4 linked regions of the Homo sapiens genome follow. The protein of the gene in region 2 purifies or fractionates together with the protein of the main gene of each other region. This does not show direct contact. Each region holds a gene or a part of one and is shown on either strand. Other genes may lie near its edges. The genes, in order: SRBD1, ZC3HC1, POF1B and SERPINB5.

The links.
Region 1: the proteins of ZC3HC1 (region 2) and SRBD1 purify together in Homo sapiens (affinity purification with mass spectrometry; 2 studies listed by BioGRID and IntAct, with this or other methods). This does not show direct contact.
Region 3: the proteins of ZC3HC1 (region 2) and POF1B purify together in Homo sapiens (co-immunoprecipitation; 2 studies listed by BioGRID and IntAct, with this or other methods). This does not show direct contact.
Region 4: the proteins of ZC3HC1 (region 2) and SERPINB5 purify together in Homo sapiens (co-immunoprecipitation; 2 studies listed by BioGRID and IntAct, with this or other methods). This does not show direct contact.

The regions. Positions count from the first base shown.
Region 1 is NC_000002.12:45,594,268-45,601,295, forward strand, and holds part of SRBD1 (S1 RNA-binding domain-containing protein 1), read right to left. Parts: intron 5,569-7,028; coding exon 5,182-5,568; intron 1-5,181.
Region 2 is NC_000007.14:130,048,349-130,055,213, forward strand, and holds the start of ZC3HC1 (zinc finger C3HC-type protein 1), read right to left. Parts: upstream 3,027-6,865; 5' UTR 3,019-3,026; coding exon 2,873-3,018; intron 2,141-2,872; coding exon of another isoform or gene 2,095-2,140; intron 797-2,094; coding exon 685-796; coding exon of another isoform or gene 626-684; intron 1-625. UniProt on the Homo sapiens protein: Required for proper positioning of a substantial amount of TPR at the nuclear basket (NB) through interaction with TPR.
Region 3 is NC_000023.11:85,306,651-85,313,678, forward strand, and holds part of POF1B (protein POF1B), read right to left. Parts: intron 1,567-7,028; coding exon 1,474-1,566; intron 627-1,473; coding exon 513-626; intron 1-512. UniProt on the Homo sapiens protein: Plays a key role in the organization of epithelial monolayers by regulating the actin cytoskeleton. May be involved in ovary development.
Region 4 is NC_000018.10:63,486,956-63,493,983, forward strand, and holds part of SERPINB5 (serpin B5), read left to right. Parts: coding exon 1-128; intron 129-2,391; coding exon 2,392-2,509; intron 2,510-3,658; exon of another isoform or gene 3,659-3,777; intron 3,778-5,997; coding exon 5,998-6,140; intron 6,141-7,028. UniProt on the Homo sapiens protein: Tumor suppressor. It blocks the growth, invasion, and metastatic properties of mammary tumors.

The sequences.
Region 1 (7,028 bases), on a different chromosome or scaffold from region 2:
AATCTCTTGCAACAAAGGGAAAACAGCTAATAAAAAAGGTTTTGTTTGCCTTTTCTCCCTGTTTAGCAAACTTTACTAAGATATTACACATGGCTGCTCAACTCCCCTACACTCACCACTCCCGAAAGAAACTGGACAACAACCACCTTTGGAGCAGTTTAATTTTCCCAAAAATTGTCTGTAGCTGGTCACTTCTTCAAATTCTTATAGTTCATGGTATCCAAAACATATCTGCAAAATAACTTTAACAAAAACTAGTTTCTGGTCGCAATCACACATTTGCAGTTTGGGAGAAAGGGCTGAAAAGGAGTAGGTTGCTTCTGTCAAAAGACCTGGTGATCCCCAACCCCGGATCAGGAAATAGAAACAAAATACATTCATGTATAATGTCTGTTAAAACATTATAGGAAGCCATTGTTTTGGATGAAGCTCCTGCAGTAGGCCCCGATAGACCCTATGTTCCATAGACTAAAAATCAAAATGAACTCACCCTGGCTAAAATTTTAGTCACCAAACTAAAACAAAGTTGTTATCTGACTTTCCAAGAAATCTAAAGAATGATAACAGCCAATTTATCAAACAGGCCAGTTTCAATCTTCAATAGGCATGATAATAAAGTTCCCTCTACTTTAATCCTTATACAAAAAGACTGAAGTAACTTCATTTTATCTGTTATTTTTCTATTTTTCTGTCTCCCTCTCTCCACTTTACAAGGAAAGCAATCCACTTTCTGTTGTTTCTGCTTTCATTAGTCCTATCTATAAAACCAACCCCCCTGCTTAATTCATTAGAACACTTATCCTATTTTATGAAATGAAGTGTTGCTTGATTCTAGAATCATAAACCCAACAGAGATCTTTAAACTAAACTTGTAATTTTGTCCTTTTGACAAGCCTAAAACTAAATCAAGTGTTGACTATATAGTTCTGCCTCTCCAAACAAGACAGTGATGTTCCTGAAAAAAATCTGTAGTTTTCAGAGTTGAGAAATACACCTTGAACGGAAAAAAACAGAGGACCAAGTTATCATTGTGGCCAAGGCCATGGGGAATAGTACACAAAATAAAGGATATATAAATGACATTTCCACATGTTCAACTAGTAATACTTAATAATTTCCATACAATTAAGTTTCACAACCATTCCTTGCTAACTAGATAACTATTCAGGATTTCCCCCAAAGAATTTGGACATACATTTTGTGGCAGATAATATGCATGTTACAGGTATTTTGTTGAGTCTGATCCTTATCCAAATGTTCAGGACTTTTCTGATTTTCTGGCTTGGTATTACTTGACTCTCATTCTTGTCAGTTCCCTCTTTTTCCAACATCTACCCCTGTTCTCAACCATGTTTACAAGCAGGAATACAGTTTTAAGACAAAATTACTTTCTCTCTGACAAAGTTTCTCCTGTTTACGGAGAAATTTTAAAAGTATAGGAAAGGAAATCCACATATACCACAATAATTGTCTGTAAAATTCAAGTTAAAATTAAGGAAGGATAATTGCAACTGGTTAAATAAAAAGAACCCAAACATGTAAAATTCACATGTAATAGTTTCCCAGGCAATTTCCCTAAACCCACCAGGAAAATGCTGAGCTTAATAATTGCCATCAGATTGCTCAGCAAAGGTGGCAGCGTCCCAAAAACCACTTCCCAATTCACAGGCAAGGAGTGCCCAGATTCTCAGAGAATAGGCATTCAGCTGTCAACATTCACTTCAAAAAAGGAAGAGGAAAAAAAAATTGCTTGGAATTAAAAGGAAAATCTAGCATGCCTATAATTTTCAAAATATTTTCTAAGAGGGCAAAAGGCCATAAAATAGTTCTTGTGCCTTTAAATGAGACAACTTGCTTCCAAGTCACTATTCCCACAACACAACAAAGGACATTACTGCTACTAGCTTACAAATAAAACTTTTCTTTCTTTACTTTTCCTTTGTCACTCACCTTCTGGCAGCTGGGCACCTATCGCTCATCATACACTTGTCCCTCCTCATTCTATTCAGCAAGTAATCTTGCCTTTCTCTTGGAATGTATTTTCCAAAAGGCTTTGTTTAGCTGCTATTTTAGTGACATTACAGAACGCATTAGTGAACCCAGATATTCATTCCTAACCAAACATTAAAAGTCTAGGTTAACGGATTGCAGAACAAATTTTCTTCTCTCAAAGCTCTGAAATCACCTTCAGTTATACCTATTAGAGAAATGATGCAAACTAGAAACTAAATTCTACAAATACTTTGAGTCAATTCTCAGTAATTTCTCAGTAAGTTTTAACTTTAAGATGGTTTTTCTGAACAAACAAAACTGTTTTCTGTCTATTTTACTCCTATCCATAAAGGATTTTTTGATGGTTAACCCATTGCATCTACTAATCCATCATGATAATGTAGTAAACAAATCTAAAGTGCCTAGTACAGAGCCGAGCTCATAACAAGTCATCTATAAATAAATGGTAAGTATTATGATCCCTTGTCAATTAAAGATCTGTAAACCAACACCTTAAGGTATTATGGTAAAAGAAACCTAAGTATTTGTCAACAGTGGCTAATCATCACCTAGATTTATAAATTTACATTCTAAAGCTGAACCCTGAAGTAGACATCTTCTGGCCCAGAAATGCCCTCCTTTTCTCAGAGAACACCCCCCCACAACCCTAACACACACACACACACACACACCCACAACCCTAACACACACACCCACACCCACAACCCTCACACACACACACACACACACACACACACAGCCCTGGCAGCCATATTTCTAAAATACAGTGAGGCCTCAGCACCCCAGGCACTGGACCAGAGATGGATACCTGACCCAAATTCAGCCAATCAGACTTTCTTCTTAAAATTTGGAACTGGAGGCTGAGTGCGGTGGCTTACACCTGTAATCCCTGCACTTTGGGAGAAAGAGGTGGGCGGATCACCAGGTCAGAAGACGGAGACCATTCTGGCTAACATGGTGAAACCGTGTCTCTACTAAAAATACAAAAAATTAGCCAGGCGTGGTGGCACATGCCTGTGGTTCCAGCTACTCAGGAGGCTGAGGCAGGAGAATCGCTTGAACCTGGGAGGCAGAGGTTGCAGTGAGCCAAGATCGCGCCACTGTACTTCAGCCTGGGCGACAGAGTGAGACTCTGTCTCACAAAAAAAAAAAAAAATGTGGAACTGCAATACAGAAGCAACTGGTTAGTCTACGTAACTAATAAAACTAATGGCAAATAAACTAGGGAGCTGTCATTTTCTATCCTCTGTAAAGAAGCAAGAAAATCTTATCTGCTGAGAAAATAATAACTCAAACAGAGAAGCAGCAGAAATTGGTGATTATAAGACACCAGATAGAGAGAAAACTAACAGCACCTTCTCTGAGTCCTCACAGTTTCCAATTTCTGGTTCAAGTCCTTTGGGAGACTTGACCACATTCTGTCCCTTTTGTTCTTTGAAAGGTCCCTATGTCCTTGGTGAAAAACTCTTTTCTACTTAAGCTCATTATAAAGAGCTTATATACTTGTAACCTAGAGACAAAAGGTTAAGGCAGGGCCATTTTCTACATCTCTTTCCCTGTAACAGAGGGTGGGAAGCAGAGTCATAGAATAAGTAGCTCTTTACTACGAATAACTTATTACCAAGTCTCAAAGACCAGAGACTTCACAGTCTAAAACTTCTTAACTTCCTCCTGCACACTGCCAACTACCAGAGGTGGATCTATGTCAACAATGGAAATAACCTTAAAAAGCGTTAGAAAAGGAAAAGAGAAGGGAAGTGGTACATGTCCACCTGCCTCTGTAGGCCTGGTCTGGAACCAAGAACTTTAAGAAAGGCTTCAGGGTGAATCTGATGCAGGTAGTCCATGGACCACACTTTAAAACACTGCCTTCTAGGTATAAATGAACAAAGAAAAAGAAGGCATAGAAAGGAGCCTAATTATACTCTGTTTTTCCAAGATACCTTGGACTATTCATTCAGGAACAAGGTAAGAGGAAAAGCTGTAAAGCAACATTCTATTCCTTAGTGCACCACAGAGAAGAAAAATCATGATTAAAAATTACCAGTGACAGGCCAGGCGTGGTGGCTCATGCCTGTAATCCCAGCACTTTGGGAGGCCGAGGCGGGCAGATCACGAGGCAGGCAGATCGAGACCATCCTGGCTAACACGGTGAAACCCTGTCTCTACTAAAAATACGAAAAATTAGCCGGGCGTGGTGGCAGGTGCCTGTAGTCCCAGCTACTCGGGAGGCTGAGGCAGGAGAATGGCATGAACCCGGGAGGTGGAGCTGACAGTGAGCACCACTGCATTCTAGCCTGGGCGACAGAGCAAGACACCGTCTCAAAAAAAAAAAAAAATTACGTTTTACTAAGAGGTAATAGAAAAGGCAGCATGGGTACAAAGACATTTGTGACACACAGGCAGTCCCAGATTGAGAAGTGGAATCAGGATCCAGCAGAGGCCCTCAGCTCTACAGCCACAATCATAGCAAGGGAAAGAGTACACAATAGAATCACATGGGACAGATAACAGGGAGGGAAGTCACCCCCACCTACCCTGAGAGGCACTACCATAATTAAGTCTAAAATGGTCCCAGAATGTGCTGGGACAGACAAAAGCTCACTAGCTACTCTTCGGGTCTCCAATACTGTCCCCAAAGCCAGCCAAAAAAACTGGGAGAAATCTGATTTCCCCTGTAGTAAGACATATAATTCTGGCATCTCAAGTTGGAATTCTTACAGAATTTCCTTTCAAAAATCGCTAGGCCTTGTTGTAGTACATTACAACATTATACTAAGGGTTAAATAGATGTATGAACAGCCAGTGACCTAATCACCTACACTGCTTTTATAGGAAAATACAGTCCAAGTTCAAAGCAAAAACTTAACAATGAACCTGTGGGGGCCCAACCAGTTGGTACAATCTGTCTATATAGTTTATGTTCACTAAAACACCATAGCAAAGGCCAAGAGAGGCCACACATCTTAGCTGAAGAACTGATGATTAGCTACAACACAAAACAGTGTACCCAAGAAAGTTACAAGTAGGAAAGCCTCCAGAAATCACTGGCAAAACTGAAGAGAGAATTGAAAACCCCCAGCCCTTCCCTTAGACAGTACAACCCCTATGCTAGTCAAAAAGAAAGCACTCAAAACAACTAAAGTGACAGAAAAAGGCTGCACATACCTGTACCATGTCCCAATTCATTTCCACCTCCTCTTTAGTACTATTGGCATTTGCTGGAAACTTGACAGGCTGCCCCTGAGGATATGTCTCAGTCTTGATTTTCTTTAAAGCGGACTGACCAAATGTAAAGTCATCGTCATTCTCTTCCTTCTTGCATGTACCTCCCCACACAGTGCTTGTGGATGGTGTCTCTGAACTATTACTCTCACCCTCTAAGTTGCTGGCTTTGCTGGTTTCTTCTTCAACTTTCAGCTTTTTAGTCCTTCGAACTGTATGTGGCTGCGCTGCACATTTCTGTTTTGTCTTGGCTGTTTTCAGAGTCTGTACAGTATCCAATTTATTTTTTCTGTCTTCTAAAGCAGTATCAGCAATAGCCACAGAGCTATTCTATCAAACCACAAAGAGAACATATGAGAATTAGAAGATAAAAAGCAATTTCCTGGGACTATTACTCACAAATAAAAGTGAACAAATTATTGATACACACAATAACTTGGAAGAATCTCAAGTAAATTATGTTGAGTGGGAAAAAAAGCCAATCTCAAAGTTACATACTATATGAATACATTTATATAACATTCCTGAAGAGATTAGAGGTTGGCAAGGGTCAGAGATGATGGGGGGAGGTGGGTGTGGCTATAAAAGGGCAACACTAGGCATCTTTGTGGTGATGGAACTTTTCTGTCATGGTAGATACACAAACCTACATGTGCGATAAAATTGCACAGAACCAAGTACATACATATACATACACATGAATGAATACAAGTAAAACTGGAGAAATCTAAATAAGATCAGTGGATTTTATCAATGTATCTCGGTTGTGACATCTTACTATAGATTTGCAAGATGCTACCATTCGGGAAAAAATGGATAAAGAGTACATGGAATTCTTCTATTATTTCTTCCCATTGCATGTCAACTATTTAGAAATAAGCAGTTTAATTTTTAAAAATGAGTAAAGGATAGGTCTACACATGCCAGAAAACCAAGATTAAAACTTGCTATCAAAGTCAACCACTTAGCAGACAGAAAAGTAACACTCATTCACTCATACAACTCAACAGGCTACACATGCCACCAATTTCTGCTGAAGAGTAGAGGATAGAACACAGAATGATAGCAGGCTAATGTCAGGCATTTTTCTTTAACAAGAGTCCGCACAGCAGCCCACACAGGTGTCTAGGGACTACACTCTGCACTGCCACTGCCCCCCAATCCAAGTGACAGCTCAAGTGTGAAGAAATGAGACTTGGCACCCATCTCGGCACTGGGTATAGTGTAAATAAGATAAAGACCCTACCCCTAAGCTGGTCTGTTCTCCGTTACCTAAATGATGCAGATGGCACAAACATGAACAATTCCCAAACTAAATTTTAGTCAAAATTCTATCTTCTCTTTTATCAAGTATTTTTTCCAGAATCACTATTAAAAATATTAAGAACTACAATAAAGAGCACCTCCACCTGAATGCCAACCTGCCACCACCACCATCTGAACTTGAAAATAATGAACATTAGAGAGCCCTCTGAGTATTAAATTTTTTGCCCAAAATAGAATGGATCAGAGCAGAGACATAAAGATAAAATAACTCCCAGGCCTAAAAGAGTTGATAACCTAATCAAATGAATTGACATATCTAAAGAAAGTGTCAATCATAAAGGGTGTTGTCAGCCACTGTCTTAGCTTCAAGCTATTAAAACATTCAATTGTGATTGTGACAAGCATAATGCCTAGACCACAGTGGACATTCAATAAACTCAAACGAATGGATTTATCTCATCATCCTATTCTGAGTCCATGCTCATCAAGTAAATTTCTGATTACTACTTAATTCCCTATTCAGA
Region 2 (6,865 bases):
TTTCTTTTGAGACAATTTTCCTAGTTGAGCCTTGAAATGACAGTGCCCTGACCAACCTTAATTGCAGTCTGTGAGAGACCCTGAGCCAGAGGACTCAGCTAAGCCATGCCTGGATTCCTGATCCACAGAAATTATGAAATAAAAACTGTTTGTTGTTTTAAGATCACTAAGTTTTGGGGCAATTTGCTATGCAGCAATAGGTAGCTAATACACAAAGGAAAATCTAGAAAGAGACATTATAGTAGTGTAGTCTCTAATAATCTAAAAAACATTAGATTATAATCCTGGATCTGCCATTTGCTAACAGGTTCATCTTGGGCAAGTCATATAACCTGCCCCAAACTGTTTCCTCTTCTGTAAAACAAGTATAATAATAATGCTTATTTTCATAGGTTTAAGGTCAAGATCGAATGTGATAATATATACAAAAACATACTATATACAAGTATTAGTTATTATTTCTTCTTTTCTCAGGCTCTTAGTTTTTTCTTCTGTAAAAAGAAAAGGTTAGATAACCTCAACTGTCCCTCTGAGTGATAACATATTAGGATGCTGACTTTCCTATATAATTTCTTACCAAGGTTTTATTCTTAAGTTTAAAGCATCACAGTAAGTGGTGTAATACCTTGGAGGAATTCTAGAAGCAGGCAGAAAGTGCAATTCACATGAACTAAAAAAGGATATAGAAAATGTTTCCACTCTGCTAAAGAAGGCTTCTTTGCTTGTAGATTCCAATGAAGGTTGTTCCGCTTGGGGTGATCCATTAACTGACTGGGATGTGGCAGACGTGTCCTTCCTAATATAAAGTGGCAAAACTGTTGGTAAACCTTTCACAGTACCCTCTGCTTAAATGTTATCTAGCTTCTCTACACATCGTATCATAAATCACACCAACGCTGGATTTTAAGCTTCCTAAAAATCATTTTACTCATGTCATTCCTCAGCTTATTATTTTCAATGGTTTTATAATACTTACTAAATAAAATCCAAATTTTTCAGTCTGGCATTCAAAACTCTTTACAGTTTACCCATATCTAAACTTCAATTTCTACCTCTACAGGGCTCCACTAATCCTAGCAAACTATTCTCCTCACTCACTCACTGTTCTCCACAAGTATTTGGCATAACTTTAGTAGACAGAAAATAAGACTCAAGACTTCAAGTATGCATTATACAATTTGAATCTCTTCAGAAATTCGACTTTTTTTTTTTTTGAGATGGAGTCTCGCTCTGTTGCCCAGGCTGGAGTGCAACGGTGCGATCTCGGCTCACTGCAACCTCCACCTCCCAGGTTCAAGCAATTCTCCTGCCTCGGCCTCCCCAGTAGCTGGGATTACAGGCGCGTACCACCAGGCGTGGGCCCGGCTAATTTTTTGTATCTTTAGGACAGACGGGGTTTCACCATGTTGGTCAGGCTGGTCTGTAACTCCTGACTTTGTGATTGGCCCACCTCAGCCTCCCAAAGTGCTGGGATTACAGGCGTGAGCCACAGCGCCTGGCAGAAATTCGACTCTTAACAGCAGAAAAAACAATTTTGATATTTCTACCTGGAGGGACCTTTCATACCCACTCCTTCCAAAAAAAAAAGAACCAATTAGAAAATTCGAATCAAAGATCTTCGGGAGATTTCATGAAAAAAAAATCAGGGAGAAAAAAACTCAGCAAAGCAATTCTCTCATTTTCAGTGGAAGGCATTTCAACAGTGCCTGGGGAATTGCTGAAAGACAAGCATTTATTTATTTATTTAGAGACGGAGTCTCACTCTGTCACTCAGGCTGGAGTGCAGTGACGCGATCTCGGCTCACTGCAACCTCCGCCTCCCAGGTTCAACCAATTCTCCTGCCTCAGCCTCCCGAGTAGCTGGGACTACAGGCGCGGGCCACCACGCCCGGCTAATTTTTTGTATTTTTAGTAGAGATGGGGTTTCACCGTGTTAGCCAGGATGGTCTTGATCTCCTGACCTCGTGATCTGCCCGCTTCAGCCTCCTCAAAGTGCTGGGATTATAGGCGTGAGCCACCGCGCCCGGCGACAGGCATTATTTTAATAAAAATAGGATTACATCAACGATTATAGCTCAAAAGAAATAAACTTACTCTAAGACTCTCAGAGATTCATAGAGAGCCTCAAGCGGGTGTGGTTCTAGGCCAAAAAAAATTCACAGCATCCATAAACTTGGATGGGTAAAAATGACATTTATTTCTCTCTAAATGACAAGATTTAGCATTTTCTTCAATTATGAATGAAGGTAAAAACACCATAGTAGTATTAGCAGTACCTGCTAATTTGTCACCAATGGAAATAATGTTCCCACATTATGGTGGTTGCATGTCTTCAAATACCTTTGTGCTCATCACTACTTCAAAATTATGGTTGACAACACATACTACTAGATATTATGGACTCTTTAATAAAAAGCATTGTTACTGCGTAACTTTTTCCTTTTACCATCTTGATAACTACATTCCAATCTAACTGGTTTCCTTTATAATCCTATGTAATTTACTTTAAGCATTTAAAAATATTCTGAGAGTTAATAAGCTTCTCCAGAGAGCCAAAGGGGTCCACGGCACAAAAAAAGGTTAAGAATCCCCAATTAAGAGAAGTCAAGTGAACTCATTCAGTTAACGGTCCTCTTTACTTCCAAAAATAATGTCCGATGACAAAATTTCGGCTGCGGTTGGGAATCTGGTACACCCCGAGGGGAAGATCAAAGCCGATCAAACATAGTAACCAGAGTTTCTTTCAGATTCTAAGAAGCCATCCCCACTGCCCGAGTCGCCGACCGAGGGGAACCTCCCCCAACCCGCCACCCCTTCCCCAAGCCTTCTTCAATCTTCCAACGCCGGACCCAGGGTTAACTCGTGAACTCACGCGTCCACGCCTCCCTCTTCCGGGGCAATCCCCTCATCTATCAGCTGCCGGATTTTCTGGGGGGTCCCTTCTGGGGAGCGAACTACTGCACCCCAATTCTTTTCAACCCCTACGGCAAACGCTTGTCCCTCACAGGGCGCCGCCATCTTGGTCCGCTGCCGAGTTGCTTCCCCGAGAGTTTGAAGGCTCCGGAACTTCCGTCCTGGGAGGTTAATATCCGCCTCTTGAGGCAGCCTGGCTGGGAAAGTCTAACCGCGGGGCCCACGCCTTTTCTCATCATTTTAGAACCTTAGAGCGAGCTTAAGGAGGGCTGTACTGTTTAGGACAATCTTGATTAATCGTTTCCTTTATCAACTAGCATATTTAGGTTGATAAGAGATTTTTAGAACGCTGTCAGTCCAAATTCAGCAGGGATGAGGGGCTCAACTTAATTTTCAAGTAATATTAACTAATACGGCCGGGCGCCGTGGCTCATGCCTGTAATCCCAGCGGTTTGGGAGGCCGAGGTGGGCGGATCGCCTGAGGTCAGGAGTTCGAGACCAGCCTGGCCAACATGGTGAAACCCCATCTCTACCAAAAATACAAAAATTAGCTGGACTTGCTGGCGGGCGCCTGTAATCCCAGCTACTAGGGAGGCTGAGGTAGGAGAATCGCTTGAACCCGGGAGGCGGAGGTTGCAGTGAGCCGAGATTGCGCCACTGCACTCCAGCCTGGGCGACAAGAGCAAAACTCCGACTCAAAAAAAATAAAAATAAAAATAAATTAACTCATACGACCCTCCTAAGTTGCACCTTTCTACAAGCGAGGAAATGGTGACCCTCATTGGAGAGCAAATAATTTAGAATCCTTGTTGGAAACCGTGTTATGGATGGATTTAGAAGTCTGTGGCATTTGACACTATTGATACTCCTTCCTTAGTCCAACAAATATTTATTGAAAACGTCCTATTTATTTTTTTTGAGATGGAGTTTCGCTCTTGTTGCTCAGGCTGCAGTGCAATGGCGCGATCTCGGCTCACTGCAACCTCTGCCTCCCGGGTTCAAGCGATTCTCCTACGTCAGCCTTCCGAGCAGCTGGGATTACAGGCATTCGCCAACACGCCCAGCAATTTTTTTTTTTTTTTTTTGTATTTTTAGTAGGGACGGGATTTCACCATGTTGGTCAGGCTAGCCTTGAACTCCTGACCTCAGGTGATCCGCCCGCCTCGGCCTCCCAAAGTGTTGGGATTACAGGCATGAGCCACCGCGCCCGGCCGAAAGCATCCTATTGATAGTCTCTAGGCACTAGCAATGACAGTCGTGAGCAAAGAAGCTGTAGATCTTGGTGGAGTTAGATGTCAAATTTTCCTATAGTTTTAAAATTATGATTACAAGTGCTCCAAGGATGTACCAAGGTTATAATAGGAGAATCTAATTTAGTTTGCACATTCTCCTGAGAAAAATCAGGTACTGGAGCTGAGACGGATGAGATTGAAGGGAAGAAATCTGTACAGAATCTTCCAACACCCCAGGTTGGAAGACTGATGTGACTAAACAATGGGCAAAGAGGAAAGTGGGATCACCTCCTACCCTTCCAGCACCCTACCTGTGGGCTCCTAACTCTATCAGTGTTCCCAGCAGCAGGACCTGCAACCTATTGATCCAATTACCTTTCTGCTCTTCCTAACTCCACCACCACCCTTGTTTCTTCTTTTCTTAGCCAGCTTAAATTCATTACTAATTGTTATCATCATCCCTTTGCAAAATTTGAACATGGGTTGAGACTTAGTTAATATGAAGGAAACATTGTTGATTTCACTATATGTAATAATGGCATTGTAGTTATGGTTCTTAAAAGCCCTTCTTTATTAGAAATGCATCTTGAAGTGTTTATAGGTGAATTGATATGATGTTTGGAATTTGCTTTGAAGTTATCCAGGAAAACATGTGGAGGAATAGATGAAAAAATATTGCAAAATTTTAAACTGTCGGACTTGGATGATAGAATTGTGGGATTCATTATATTATTCTTTCTGCTATTAAGTATGTTTGACAATATCATAATAAAAAGCAAAATAAATAAGCTAAAAAATACATGTTCTTGAATACCCTTTGAATTTCCTTGAACCTCTCTTGCTTAATAGTACTTACTTGACAAAACCTCAATCACAGTTGAAGTAAGTTCTCTATTATTGCTTCTGTACCCATACAACTAAATATGGCTAAAGAGAAATGACAAACTTGTCTCTTTATATTCTTGACTTCAAGTGGGACCTTAATTCTGCCCAGTAATTATACTACCTTTATCTAGTCCACTTCTCATCCCACTTTTCATAGATGACTTATTTTTATTTTTTATTTTTTTAAATTTATTTTTTATTTTTATTTTGATTTTTTTGCAGACGGAGTCTCCCTCTGCTGCCTGCTGGAGTGCAGTGGCACAATCTCGGCTCATTGCAACCTCTGCCTCCTGGGTTCAAGCGATTCTCCTTCCTCAGCCTCCTGAGTAGCTAGGATTACAGGCACCTGCCACCATGCTTGGCTAATTTGTCATATTTTTAGTAGAGACGGGGTTTTACCATGTTGGCCAGGCTGGTCTTGAATTCCTGACCTCAGGTGATCCGCCCACCTTGGCCTCCCAAAGTGCTGGGATTACAGGCGTGAGCCACCATGCCTGGCCACCTGGCTAATTTTTATATTTTTAGTAGAGACAGGGTTTCACCACATTCACCAGGCTGGTCTCGAACTCCTGACCTCAAGTGATCTGCCCACCTCGTCCTCCCAAAGTGTTAGGATTACAGGTGTGAGCCACTGCACCCACCTTCATAGATGACTATTATATACCTCTCTCCTCAAACACCTTCAATACTTCCACTTATCCATCCTCCCTTTCTGCTAATGACACACTCCTAGGAAAATACTGACTGTACAGTTAGCCATGGTAACAACCAGCAATCAGAGCCAGTTTTAAGTTCAATTGACCCATGATTACTCATCACAGTGAATGTGTTTTTGTAAACCCAATGAATGACAACTTCTTGATTCAGCCAATCACAAAGACTCACTTCAATAAGCACTCCTCTGAGTGCCAGCCACTCAACAATAGTTTCACCCAAGTTATCACTTCTACAAATGATGCTAACACACACCTTTGAAAGTTTGCCAATCTCTGAACTCCCCACTTTCTCAAAGTCTGATAGATTAGTAGTCTGGTCTGCTTGAAGACTGTGCCTCACCTGCATGGCTCTTACTGTTTATAGTAAGCAAGAAATTTGGCTTTGTGGTTTTTTTTTTTTTTTTTTTTTGAGACGGAGCCTTCCTCTGTCGCCCAGGCTGGAGTGCAGTGGCGCATCTCGGCTCACTGTAAGCTCCGCCTCCCGGGTTCACCCCATTCTGTGGCCTCAGCCTCCTGAGTAGCTGGGACTACAGGCACCCGCCACCACGCATGGCTAATTTTTTGTATTTTTTTAGTAGAGACGGGGTTTCACTGTGTTAGCCAGGATGGTCTCAATCTCCTGACCTCGTGATTTGCCTGCCTCAGCCTCCCAAAGTGTTGGGATTACAGGCATGAGCCACTGTGCCCGGCCGGCTTTGTGTTTTTATTTCGCATGATGAATGGTGTTCTCATCATCCTCTAACCGTACTTTACCTTCCCTCCTGTTACTATTGATCAGTGGTTCTCAAATGAGTGTGATATTGCCTGCCACAGGACACTTGGCAATGTCAGGAGACATTTTTGGTTGGAGTGGTGATAGAGGCCAGGAATGTTGCTAAGCATTTTACAACATCCAGAACAGCCTCGCCACAACAAAAAATTATCTCACCCAATATGTGCACAGGTTGAGAAGCCCTGCTGTAATCTATGTGCCTATCTAAGGCCAAACTTACACATTGGATCTAATTCCCCTTGCCTACTCAAGAACATTGTCCACCAATTCTCCCCTCCACTGCACATTTCCATTAGCAGCAAGATATTACTTCTCCCATCTTAAAAACATGCAAAACAGGCCAGGTG
Region 3 (7,028 bases), on a different chromosome or scaffold from region 2:
TGATTATTTACATGACAACTAGTAACTGAGCAAGAATTTGGGACAGCCATAGGAGTAAAGATCAGGAAGAGGGTAATCCTTAGAGACTACTTACAATTTCCTAGGAATTCTCTCTGCTCAGACATCCAGAGAATTCATCTAGAGTTTTTTCAGTCATTTATTTATTGCACAAACATGTATTAAGGTCTACAACAGCTTTTCTCATTGACATGTTAGTACATTAAATAAATGCATGAACCTAGATTTTTAGTATTTCTACAATTCTGGTCACCCAACAAGACAAATAATTGTGTCCCATATGTACTTTATATCTAAAATAGATAAGATTATCTGTTTTTCTGAGAGGGCTTTCAGCCATTAGAAATACCCAAAGCCACTCAATTCTCATATGAACAAATTTTTCCATCATATTTAATTCTGTCTTGATTATATCTCATAACTCCAATGTGCCAGTAATTGTGCATATGAAAAGCTATCAATGTAGATTAACACCAATAAAAGCATCAGTTTACCTGCTGCTGGTGATTATTTGCTCTCACTGATGCCAAGAGTTCTTCGTACTCTTTTAATTGAGTGTCTTTGAATGATAAATCTTTCTCAAGTCTCATCTTGTCATTTTCCAGTGACTAGAAGCATAAATTATTTATTATGATTCAGAATTGCAAAAACTTAACAGTCACATAATACAAAGACTTGCTTACCTTGGAAGATTTAAATAAGCACTTGTTTCATTTGTACTTGCTTAATAAAGCAGAATTCTTAAAAGTTAAGAAAATACGGGATAGGAAATGATTGAAACTTCTAAAACCTTCATTGAAAGAGACATTTTGATGGACTAACTATACATGAAATGAAGCACAACCCTCTGAAATGTTTTAATGTTTTCCTCCAATCTACAAAGAGTCCTCGTTAATCCCAGCGAGTGGTAAATTTTTAAATTAGAGTCTAAATATGTTCATCATAACCCAGAAACAACAAAACTACTCCAAAGTCCTCAAGGCATTATTCAATGTGTGGAAAGCATTCTGAATGTATCTAGCTGATGGCACCAAGAACACCAATTAAAATAGAAAATGGAAAAAAATTAATTTTTTGGAGAAAAATGTTTTCAAGTTATTATATTTGAATGGAAATTCAGAGTATGCTTTATAATTATGAAAAAGGGGGAATTTACCTCCAATGAGTCAGATTATTTTAACTTTGCAGATGACTCTCTGGCTTTAAGCATTAAATTGCCTTAGTGGTAAACTAAATGATAAGTGCACATCCAACATTCTTTCATTTATACTTTGGATACCTCTTTTCTCCTCTCTCAATGCCAATTAACTGTTTGAAGAAAATAATTTAGCTTTGTCTGAATAAGCATAATATTGTGCTATATTAAATTTTAAAAACATATACTGGACATCTTTATTTCTGTATTAGGAAGCTAGTAACTAGAAAGGCTTTGGAAAAAATCAAAATAAATCTTACTGTCATATCATTTTGAAGATGTCCAAGCTCCTCCCGTATGTTGCTAAATGTGGACAGCACTAGTCGGAGTGACTTATCAGACATACCCCTCATCTGCAGGAAGAAAGGATTAATGGTTTAGTTTTATTAACATTTGAAAATAGGCAATATAAGTGAAAGTTTTTTTTTTCCTACTAGCAAACTTATTAATAATTTTACTTTGATATGGCAAATTAGAAAGGTGATATAAGGCATTTTGTCAATAGTGTGTTTAAGTAATCCAAATAATATTCCTGAAGATAGCATAGCTAGTATTTATAACAAATATTTATTATTTTTTCCATGATAAAGTATCATCTTTGTCACAAAGTAGAATTCTATCAGCAAAATTTAATTTTTACATTATTCTTTATTTAAAAGATTAGAAGAGATGAGACAGTCAATAATCAAATAATAAAATGAATCTCCCTAAGTGTATTGCCAACTGCCTGAATTTTGCCTGAGGTGAGAAGAATATAATTATAATTAAGTTTAACTTTAAAGTATAGAGCTATCTAAATATTTTTGGTTTTTTTTGTTTTGTTTTTGTTTTTTTACCAGAGTCTCACTCTGTCGCCTAGGCTGGAGTGTAGTGGCATGATCTCAGTTCACTGCAATCTCTGCCCCCTGGGTTCAAGCAATTCTTCCACCTCAGCCTCCCAAGTAGCTGGGACTACAGGTATGCACCAACACACCTGGTGAATTTTTGTATTTTGAGTAGAGAACGGATTTCACTGTGTTGGCCAGGCTGGTCTCGAACTCCTGACCTCAAGTGATCCACCAGCCTTGGCCTCCTAAAGTGCTGGGATTACAGGTGTGAGCCACTGCACCTGGCTTATCTCAAATTTTAAAGAGAGGGGAAACTCTTTTACTAGATTATTCTTATTTCTTTAAAGAAAAATGGTTTAAAAAACAGACAACTTCAGCTTCTGGGAAGATGGAGTAAAAATACTTTCCACAACCAATCAGACGTTGTTTAAGGTTTAACTTTGTAACTTCAGCCTCTGATTGGTCACTTTCTGCAACCAATCCGACTGATAACGGGCCACTACTTCATTTACATAGAGTGTACACCAAGTTACCAATGGGAAACCTCTAGAGGACATTTAAACCACATAAAATTATATAACTGTGCACTTGAGCCAATTGCTCAGCCCACTCCCACCCTGTGGAGTGTGCTTTCATTTTCAATAAATCTCTACTTTTGTTGCTTCACAAAAAAAAAAAAGAAAGAAAAAAGAAAAAAAATACTTTTCCCTAGCCTTCCTGTTAATTGCAGCTAAAAACCCTGGACATTATATATAAAACAAATATAAAAAGACCCAAATTGGTGAAAAGAGAAATGATTGGTTAGGAATCTTGGGACCTGAGAAATGACACAGCAGTGAGTTCCTGGATTTTCTTTTTGCTTCATATATTAGATCAGTGTTGGGCAAGCTGGTGATCTAGTTACATCAATGGACAACAAAAGTCCTGAGAAAAGCCTTCTCTCTCTAACCAAAGGACCATGAAAGGGTCAGCCTAGCAGGACAGAAAACTTTTAGATAGTAACCACTCTATCTTAGCCAAACACCACAGAAGAAATTGCAACTCTACTTCCACACGGACCACCAAAGGCCAAGAAGAGAGCTTAGACTGCCCCCTTGTCAGGCTCTAGGGAGGTACACAACACCATTCACTGGGATGGTGTCAGAAAAGACAGAGTGAAGAATGGTGCTTTCATTCCTACTGGCCAAAAATGAAATTCCATGCACTGTGATGTCAGTTGAGACTGTGAAGGGAGCTTGGGCTTTCACCCTATCGCATCAAGAGAAGCTGAGTGGGGGAACCTCAACTTCCACCACCAGCTGGCAGTAATAGGTAGTGCACACACTTTCTCTGATATTTGAATATTTGAATGAGACCCAGAGAGTCACAACATAAAAATGGCCAGGTCTCCCATCCAAGTACTAGCCAGGCTCAATCCTGCTTAGCTTCTGAGATCAAACAAGATCAGACATGTTCAGGGTCAATTGAAAATCACTCATAATTCCAAGAACAACAAAAATCTCAACCAATAAGAAAAAACACTTAATTGATGACAACATCAAGATAATAGAAATGTTAGAATTATCTGATAAAGTGTATAAAACAACCATCATAAATACTTCAACAAGAAGTTGCAAGGAGACTGTAAAAACACATTGTCTCAATGACAAAATAGAAAGTCTCAGCAAATAAATAGAAGACATAAAGAATACCTAAATGGAAATTTTAGAACTGAAAAGGACAGTAACAAGACAAAGAAACAAAAACCAAACCAAAACAACAAAGCTCTCAAGGAGTGGGCTAAAAAGCAGAATGGAGAGAACAGAGGAAAGAATTAATGAACTTAAAGATAGAATAAAATAAAGTATATAATCTGAATATCAGAAACAAATAGATTAGAAAAAATTAAACAGAGCTTAAGGGTTTGTGGGTGTACACCACATATCTAGCTTTCATGTTCAGAGTCCTGGAAGGAAAGGAGAAAGAGGATGGAGCTGAAAAAATATTCAAAAAAATTATGGCTGAGAAGTTTCCCAAATTAGTAAAACCTGGTAACATACATATTCAAGAAGCTGAGCATATCCCAAACAATATAAACCCAAAGAAATCCATTACCAGACAAATCAGAGTCAAACTTCTTAAAACTAAAGACAAACTAAAAATTTTCAAAGCAGCAAGAAAAACATTAATTATTGGGAATAACAATTCAAATGACAACAGATTTCTCATTACAAATCATGAAGCCCAGAAGGAACTAGGATACTATTTTTTAAGTACTAAAAGAAAATAATTGTCAACTGTAAATTCTATATGCAGTGAAATTATCCTTTAGGAATGGAGGGAAATTCACATTTTCAGATGAGGGAAAATGAAAATAATTTGTTACTAGCAGACCTACCCTTAAAGAATAGCTAAAAGAAGTTGTCTAAAGAGAAGAAAATCATAAAAGAAAGAATTTGGAATATTAAGAAGGAAGATATAGCATTGTAAGCAAAAATATGGTAAATACAATAAGTTTTCCTTCTTTTCTAGAGTTTTCTTTTTTTATTATACTTTAAGTTCTGGGATACATGTGCAGAACGTGCAGGTTTGTTACATAGGTATACACGTGCCATGGTGGTTTCCTGCACCCATCAACCTGTCATCTATCTACATTAGGTATTTCTCCTAATGCTATCCCTCCCCTAGCCCCCCACCCCCTGACAGGCCCCAGTGTGTGATGTTCCCATGTGTTCTCACTGTTCAACTCCCACTTATGAGTGAGAACATGAGGTGTGTGGTTTTCTGTTTCTGTGTCAGTTTGCTGCGAATGATGGTTTCCAGCTTCATCCATGTCCCTGCAAAGGACATGAACTCATCCTTTTTAATGGCTGCATAGTATTCCATGGTGCGTATGTCCCACATTATCTAGTCTATCATTGATGGGCAATTTGGGTTGGTTCCAAGTCTTTGCTATTGTGAATAGTGCTGCAATAAACATATGTGTGCATGTGTATTTATAGTAGAATGATTTATAATCTTTGGGTATATACCCAGTAATGGGATTGCTGAGTCAAATGGTATTTCTAGTTCTAGATCCTTGAGGAAGCGCCACACTGGTTGAACTAATTTACACTCCCACCAATAATCTAAAAGCGTTCCTATTTCTCCACATCCACTCCAGCATCTGTTTTTTCCTGACTTTTTGATGATCGCCATTCTAACTCACGTGAGATGGTATCTCATTGTGGTTTTGATTTGCATTTCTCTAATGACCAGTGATGATGAGCATTTTTTCATGTTTGTTGGCTGCATTAATGTCTTATTTTGAGAAATGTCTGTTCATACCCTTTGGCCACTTTTTGATGGGGTTGTTTGTTTGATTCTTGTAAATTTGTTTAAATTCTTTGTAGATTCTGGGTATTAGCCCTTTGTCAGATGGATAGATTGCAAACATTTTCTCCCATTCTGTAGGGTGCCTGTTCACTCTGATAATAGTTTCTTTTGCTGTGCAGAAGCTCTTTAGTTTAATTAGATCCCATTTGTCAATTTTTGCTTTTGTTGCTATTGCTTTTGGTGTTTTAGTCATGAAGTCTTCCCCATGCCTATGTCCTGAATGGTATTGCCTAGGTTTTCTTCTAGAGTTTTTATGGTTTTAGGTCTTACCTTTAAGTCTTTAATCCATCTTGAGTTAATTTTTGTATAAAGTGTAAGGAAGGGGTCCAGTTTCAGTTTTCAGCATATGGCTAGCCAGTTTTCCCAGCATTATTTATTAAACAGGGAATCTTTTCCCCATTGCTTGTTTTTGTAAGGTTTGTCAAAGATCCAATAGTTGTAAATGTGTGGCATTATTTCTGAGGCCTCTGTTCTGTTCCATTGGTCTATCTCTCTGTTTTGGTACCGGTACCATGCTGTTTTTGTTACTGAAGCCTTGTAGTATAGTTTGAAGTCAGGTAGCATGATGCCTCCAGCTTTGTTCTTTTGGCTTAGGATTGTCTTGGATATATGGGCTCTTTTTTTGGTTCCATATGTAATTTAAAGTATTTTTTCTAATTCTGTGAAGAAAGTCAATGGTAGCTTGATGGGGTTAGCACTGAATCTATAAATTATTTTCAGCTGTATGGCCATTTTCAAGATATCGATTCTTCCTATCCATAACAATGGAATGTTTTTCCATTTGTTTGTGTCCTCTCTTATTTCCTTGAACAGTGGTTTGTAGCTCTCCTTGAAGAAGTCCTTCACATCCCTTATAAGTTATATTCCTAGGTATTTTATTCTCTTTGTAGCAATTGTGAATGTGAGTTCACTCAAGATTTGGCCCTCTGTTTGTCTATTATTGATGTATAGGAATGTTTGTGACTTTTGCACATTGATTTTGTATCTTGAGACTTTGCTGAAGTTGCTTATCAGCTTAAGGAGATTTTGGGTTGAGACGATGGGGTTTTCTAAATATACAATCATGTCGTCTGCAAACAGAGACAATTTGACTTCCTCTCTTGCTATTTGAATCCCCTTTATTTCTTTCACTTGCCTTGTTGCCCTGGCCAGAACTTCCAATACTATGTTGAATAGGAGTAGTGAGAGAGGGCATCCTTGTCTTGTGCCGGTTTTCAAAGACAATGCTTCCAGCTTTTGTCCATTCAGTATGATATTGGCTGTTGGTTTGTCGTAAATAGCTCTTATTATTTTGAGATACATCCCATCAATACCTAGTTTATTGAGAGTTTTTAGCATGAAGCGGTGTTGAATTTTATCAAAGGCCTTTTCTGCCTTTATTGAGATAGTCATGTGGTTTTTGTCATTGATTCTGTTTATGTAATGGATTATGTTTATTGATTTGCATATGTTGAATCAGCCTTGCATTCCAGCGATGAAGCTGACTTGATCATGGTGGATAAGCTTTTTGATATGCTGCTGGATTCAGTTTGCTGTATTTTATTGAGGATTTTTGCATCGACGTTCATCAGGGATATTGGCCTGAAATTTTCCTTTTTTGTTCTGTCTCTGCCAGATTTTGGTATCAGGATGAT
Region 4 (7,028 bases), on a different chromosome or scaffold from region 2:
TTGAAAATGTCAAAGATGTACCCTTTGGATTTCAAACAGTAACATCGGATGTAAACAAACTTAGTTCCTTTTACTCACTGAAACTAATCAAGCGGCTCTACGTAGACAAATCTCTGAATCTTTCTACAGTAAGTTGTTTAAAGCAAGTAGCAAGACTTAACTTTTTACAAGGAGTGGCATTTTCATGCTGTTAGACCTACAACTTTTTTTCAGTGAAATTCCTTTCTAGGATGTTCACTTGTGATTTGAGGCTTTAAATAAATAAATCCTAGTGGAGAGGTTGAGTATAGTGGGAATCAATTGCAGTCACATCTTCTAACTCAAAATACAGAGAAGCTTATGGGCTTTCCTTTTCTCTCTCAAATAAATCTTACCCTTTCTTTTACCTTCCTCTGAGAGAATGGAGAACAGAGTAATTAACTCTCTAATAAATGTAGCTCCATAGACAATGAGCTGTCTTACAGAGTGTAAGACAGCTAATGATTTAAACTTCTTTCTCCTTAAAGAGCAGGGCATATGGCCTGGGACAATGTTTTAAGCTCTCCACCTCATTTTTTATGCACACATTCTTCTGATGTTTCTCAAAATCAGTAAGAAAAATAATAACTATGAATTCACAATTTTCATCAGTCACAAATTAGTTTTGTTGGCTGGGCTGGTCAGATGGGGATCTCCACAGGCAGCTCTGGTTATATAAGTTTAGCCATTGCTCTAAGGAATCATACAAACACCACTACGGTACCCATTGTTGTAATATTTAAAAATCTGTATTTGAAACACACAGACAATATTCTAGACTACATGAAGTTTCCCTCTGTACTTCAGTAACACAGAGTTGATTTAGTTCCTGTTTGGATGGTCAGAATTTCAAGGTTTCCAAATCGAAAAGCTAGACTACCAGCTTTTAAATATTTTACCATGATTTTGCAACTTTCTGCAGTAGGTATTTTTGTGGTTAAGATCTTTTGAGGACATGGGTTACTAGATATTGTGAGTATATTTTTTGTTGCTTAAAGATACATACACACAACCATTTTTCTTCCAACAATCATCTGAAGAATTTAAAAAAAAAAACTGAGATGTGAGTTGAAGCCTGAGCATACAACATTTCTAGAAGCTCCCTAAATGATCATTAAAGAGACAATTAACACATTTTTATTGCTGGCAGTGAGGACAATGGAGGCCCTCCTTCATCTGGCTGAGGCTTTCTAATGTTTTCAGGTGAGATTGGTTCTGTCAGTCAATGGTGACAGTGAGTCCCAAGGTTGATTTGCAATTAACTGAAGCTAAGTTAATTGGCTAAGGCTGAAGCTGCTCTGAAGAAATTCAAGAAGCCCTGTGCTTGGAAGTGAACTGACATGACACTGAATCAAGTTATATTTAGTTTCACTGAACTTCCATGCAACATCTGGAATGATCTTAACCAGACTAGGAGTTGTAAAGTTTTGTTTTGTTTTTTTCCTTGGAGATGGAGTCTTTCTCTGTTGCCCAGGCTGGGGTGCAGCGGCATGATCTCGGCTCATTACAAAAGATTTTTTAAAAGACTGCTTTCCATTGCTCCTGCTAGGTGCACAGCATCTGCAAATTTACTAGTTAAAGGTCCAAACAAGTGTGCTCTGTGGAGGATCTCTTGCATAAGAACTATCTGGGTGTTAAAAGGGCAAGTTCTTCAGGCCCTTTTAACACCCAGGTAGTTCTGATTGAACCCAGGTAGTTCTGATTAAACCCAGGTAGTTCTGATTGTCAAGGTGGGAATGGGGTTTAGGGTTGCACATTTTAAATAAGCATTAGAATAAGAACTCCTGTTATGTTCTCTCCTGCATTGTGTTTCCAACCTTAATTTGCAGATGGCACACCTGGAAATTTTGTTAAAATGCATTCTGATTCAGTATGTCTGGGGTGGGGTCTGAGATTCTTTATTTCTAACAAGGTCTCAGGTGATGCTGTACACCACCTTGGACCACAGTTTGAGTAGCAAGGGTCTACAGGATATTTAGTTCAGCAAAGACAAGAGTTTTCTGCTCATAATTCTGTTTTCTATACATTTCCTATATTCTAATATATATGTATCTGTAGACATACAAAATTTTCATGTTTCTGAAATTACAACCCATAAGAGAATTGGGCATATTTAACATAGTGTTTTCCCCAAAGCTGATATTAAATTGATAGATGCATTTAATAATTGAAATTGTCTTATAATTGAAAAAAATGAAACATTCAATACAAAGAAATTCACTGACTTCTACATGAGGTTTCAATTCATATAGTGTTACCAATTTTGAAAGTGTACATATAGCAGTTGATATTTAATAATCCTTTTGTTAGAAGAGAATAACAATGCAATAGCTTGACTACAGACTCTGATTTTATGAACTGCATGTTTTTCAGGAGTTCATCAGCTCTACGAAGAGACCGTATGCAAAGGAATTGGAAACTGTTGACTTCAAAGATAAATTGGAAGAAACGAAAGGTCAGATCAACAACTCAATTAAGGATCTCACAGATGGCAAGTACCCTTTAATTGTTCTGCTATCAATCACCAAGTAAACAGGGCCTTCCATCTCATAAATGTTTGCTCCAAGGATAAAAAAAACATCTGGAGGATTCTCTGGATATTTTTACTACACAAGCTAAATTCTTTCCCTTCAAGCCTGTAAACAACTTGGATTTCTGGGCAATTCTTGTATCATCTCATCACTTGGTAGAAACTGTTGATGCTTCAGTGTTAGTTTACTTTGTCTTGCTCTCTGACGAGCTGTCACAGGCCCTAGTGGAATCCTAGCTGCGCCTCTAACAAAGTATGACTTTGGGCCAATCATGAGGCCATTTTTCAGTCTGGAAATAGAGGGACTGGATTATAACTTCATGATCCCCGAGGCCCCTTTCAGCTGACAAATTTTACAAATTTGTTAAGGAAAAAGGGACATAGGCAACATATGTAAAAGAAAAACCGGCTGGACGCGGTGGCTCACGCCTGTAATCCCAGCACTTTGGGAGGCCAAGGCGGGCGGATCACGAGGTCAGGAGATCGAGACCATCCTGGCTAACACGGTGAAACCCTGTCTCTACTAAAAATACAAAAAATTAGCCGGGCGTGGTGGCGGGCGCCTGTAGTCCCAGCTACTCGGGAGGCTGAGACAGGAGAATGGCGTGAACCCGGGAGGCGGAGCTTGCAGTGAGCAGAGATCGCGCCACTGCACTCCAGCCTGGGCGACAGAGTGAGACTCTGTCTTAAAAAAAGAAAACCAAACCAAACAAAACCGTAGTGTCAGCTTGTCCTCGGTGCCGCAGCTCCCCATGCTGGTCGTTCCTCTGATAGCCCCGGGGTCCAAGAAGCTCCTAGGTTCTTTCTCCGGCTCAGTGCTTCCCCCAGGCGTCTCCCTCGTCGGACTCCTCGTCCCTCCCTTAAAATTGCCGGTGAGTCGTCTTCCTTGCTGGAAAAGAATTAGGGTTATGATGATTTTGAGGGCAAATCAGTGACTTTGTCCCCCTCCCCAGTGGATATATTTATAATTGCATCTGGAGGGACCCGTTGGGAGGCCGGGCCGAATCTAGTCATGAAAGAATGAAGCCTAGGCAGTCGCTGCTGTCTAGGGAGGGATACACTTCCGGGGCAAGGGAGACCCACTTCCTGCGAGAATGACTGGCGCCCCCAGCTACTCTGTCTCTGTACTGACTGAGGAAGTTCTAACAGGACAGTAACTGCAGGATGAGAACATGGGAAGAACAGGGTCTCTGGAGTCATTCAGCACCTAGGTTCAAATCCAGACACTGGTACTTACTAACTGATATTTGGACACAAAGCTTCAATTTACTGAACTGTAAAATGAGGCACATGTTACCTGATTTAATTTTTAAAATTGTATTATATTGTGTTTTATTTCAATAGGTTTTGGGGAACAGGTGGTTTTTGGTTACATGGATAAGCTCTTTAGTGGTTACTTCTGAGATTTTGGTGTACCCATCACCCAAGCAGTGTACACTGTGTGCAATGTGTAGTCTTCTATCTCTCACCTCCTTCCACTCTTCCCCCACCCCACAAAGTCCATTATGTCATTATTATGCCTTTGCATCCTCATAGCTTAGCTCCCACTTATAAGTGAGAACATACAATGTTTGGTTTTCCATTCCTAAGTTACTTCACTTAGAATAATGGTCTTCAGACCAGGCATGGTGGCTCATGCCATAATCCCAGCACTTTGGGAGGCCAAGGCAGCTGGATCACCTGAGGTCAGGAGCTCAGGACCAGTCTGGCCAACATGGTGAAACCCCGTCTCTACTAAAAATACAAAAATCAGCTGGGCATGGTGTCACGCACCTGTAGTCCCAGCTACTTGGGAGGCTGAGGCAGGATAATCGCTTGAACCTGGGAGGCGGAGGTTGCAATGAGCTGAGATCGCGCCATTGCACTCCAGCCTGGGTGAGAAGAGAGAAACTGCGTCTCCCAAAAAAAAAAAAAAAAAAAAAAAAGAATAATGGTCTTCAGCTCCATCTAGGTTGCTGTGAATGCCATTCTTTCTTTCATTTTTTTTTTGAGATAGAATGTTGCTCTGTCGCCCAGGCTGGAGTGCAGCGGCACGATCTTGGCTTACTGTAACCTCCGCCTCCCAGGTTCAAGGGATTCTCCTGTCTCAGCCTCCCAAGTAGCTGGGGCTACAGGTGCGTGCCACTACGCCCAGCTAATCTTTGTATTTTTAGTAGAGATGGGGTTTCACCATGTTGGCCAGGCTGGTCTCAAACTCCTGACCTCAGGTGATCCACCCGCCTCAGCCTCCCAAAGTGCTGGGATTACAGGTGTCAGCCACCGCATCCAGCCATGAAAAGACTTCTGAGTTTGAAATGGGAGGCTCAGGGTTGAAGTTGAAGCTCTGTCGTTTACCGGCTCCCACACTTCTTTGTTCTTCAGGTTTCTTCAATAACACTAATATATATTTAACATATTATATAGCATTGGCAGGACCAGTTACATAATTTGCATGGTCCAGGGCAAAAGTAAAAATGCTGGGCTTCTTGTTTAAACATTTATTAAGAATTTTGAGGTAGTGACAGCTGAACATTAAACCAAGTGCAGGGTCCTTCACACAGGGGTCACAGGCCTGTGAAGTGGGCCCTGAACATTGGTCTGAAAATTGGAGATTAGGTGAATGAAAACCCTTTATAAAAAACCTGTGGGCTATTCAAATGTGAGGAGTTCTTTTTATTAAGGGATCACTCCCCTTGAATTGTTTTGGCTATTGGGATTTAGCTTTATAATAACTGCAATTGTGATTGAGCCCTATGGTGATTACAGTTGACCTTGAGGCAATCAGCCTGCCCGCAAGGAGTGCAATTGAGAGAGTGGATGGAGAGCTGTGGGGTGAAGGGGACAACCTTCAGACATGTTTTCCAGCTGAGGAAACTAGAACAGCTCCTTGGCCTCTCTGAGCCTCAGTTTACTGCACTGTAAAATGGAGATAATGATCTTTGCCTTATAGGACCATTGTGAAAAGACTGAGATAATATATGTGAAATTCTGCCATAAAGAAAGTGATTACGTATTTTCATTCAAGAGCACAGGCTTTGGAGTCAGAAAGAGCTGGCTTTGAATCCTGAATCCACCCTTGTTTATATATCATCCTTGAAAGTGACTTATCATCGCTGAGTCTCAGCTTCCTCATTCATAAAGTAGGAAGAAATATATATAATGTGTATCAAATAGCTTGTATACTGCCTGACACAGAATAGGCATTCAGAATGGTAGCTGTGCTTTCCTTCTTATTTCTCTTCCTTTCTTCCCTGCTCCTTCATTCTCCTCTGCTGACCTCTTTGGTAGATCTGGTTGTGTCAAGGTAGAAGGAGAGAAAGGAGTCCTTCTGAAATTTGATGGTTGGAACCATCAGGCCTTACATGGTGTGACTCCATGAAGTGGTAAATACTCAGTGAATATGCATGTGAATTTCAGATGTAGTTTGGAAGAATAATTCTGCTACTTGTGTTTTCCTAAAATTGTTGCAGGCCACTTTGAGAACATTTTAGCTGACAACAGTGTGAACGACCAGACCAAAATCCTTGTGGTTAATGCTGCCTACTTTGTTGGCAAGTGGATGAAGAAATTTTCTGAATCAGAAACAAAAGAATGTCCTTTCAGAGTCAACAAGGTATGTGGGGCAGCATGTAGCAGTAAAAGGAGCCCAATTATAGATGTGAAAAATGATAGGGACAGAGTGGGGCATAAATCCATTCCAATGAGGAACCTGAGGGCACGGCCGGCAAAGTGCCTTTCCTGAGATGAACAGCTGGAAGGTAAGTGGTACAAAAAGAGCCAGAATCCAGAGGCCCCCCCTCCTCTTTTCCATAATGTCTTCAAGGATCTGAGCTGAGTGAAACTTTATAGAATTTGTAACCCAGCGAGGAAAGCTAAGTCACCAGCTGAAAAATAGCTACAAACATCTGAGAACTTTAGCAGAAAAGGAAAAGACCAAACTCTGTTATCAGAGGACTTTGGATTATCATGAAACCTTGACATCTAGGAATCTTGTTCCTGATTGATTAACTTCTCTAACATCTCATTTCCTTATCGGTTGATAGCGAAGTATATTGTTCTGGGATTTTAATTTATAATTTATAAGATGCTTTGATGGCTGGGCGTGGTGGCTCATGCCTGTAATCCCATGACTTTGGGAAGCCGAGGAGGGCAGATCACCTGAGGTCAGGAGTTGGAGACCAGCCTGGCCAACATGGTGAAACCCTGTCTCTACTAAAAATACAAAAATTAGCTGGGCATGGTTGTGGGTGCCTGTAATCTCAGCTACATGGGAGGCTGAGGCAGGAGAATCAGACCCTGGGAGACAGAGGTTGCAGTCAGCCGAGACTGCACCACTGCACTCCAGCTTGGGCAACAAGAGTGAAACTCCACCTCAAGAAAAACAAACAAACAAACAAACAACAAGACCAGATGCTTTCAGGCACTTGTTGGCTGTGAAAAAACAAAGTATGGCTTACTCATTGACATCACTGGAAGTCATTATGGGAAGAATTAAGGGCCT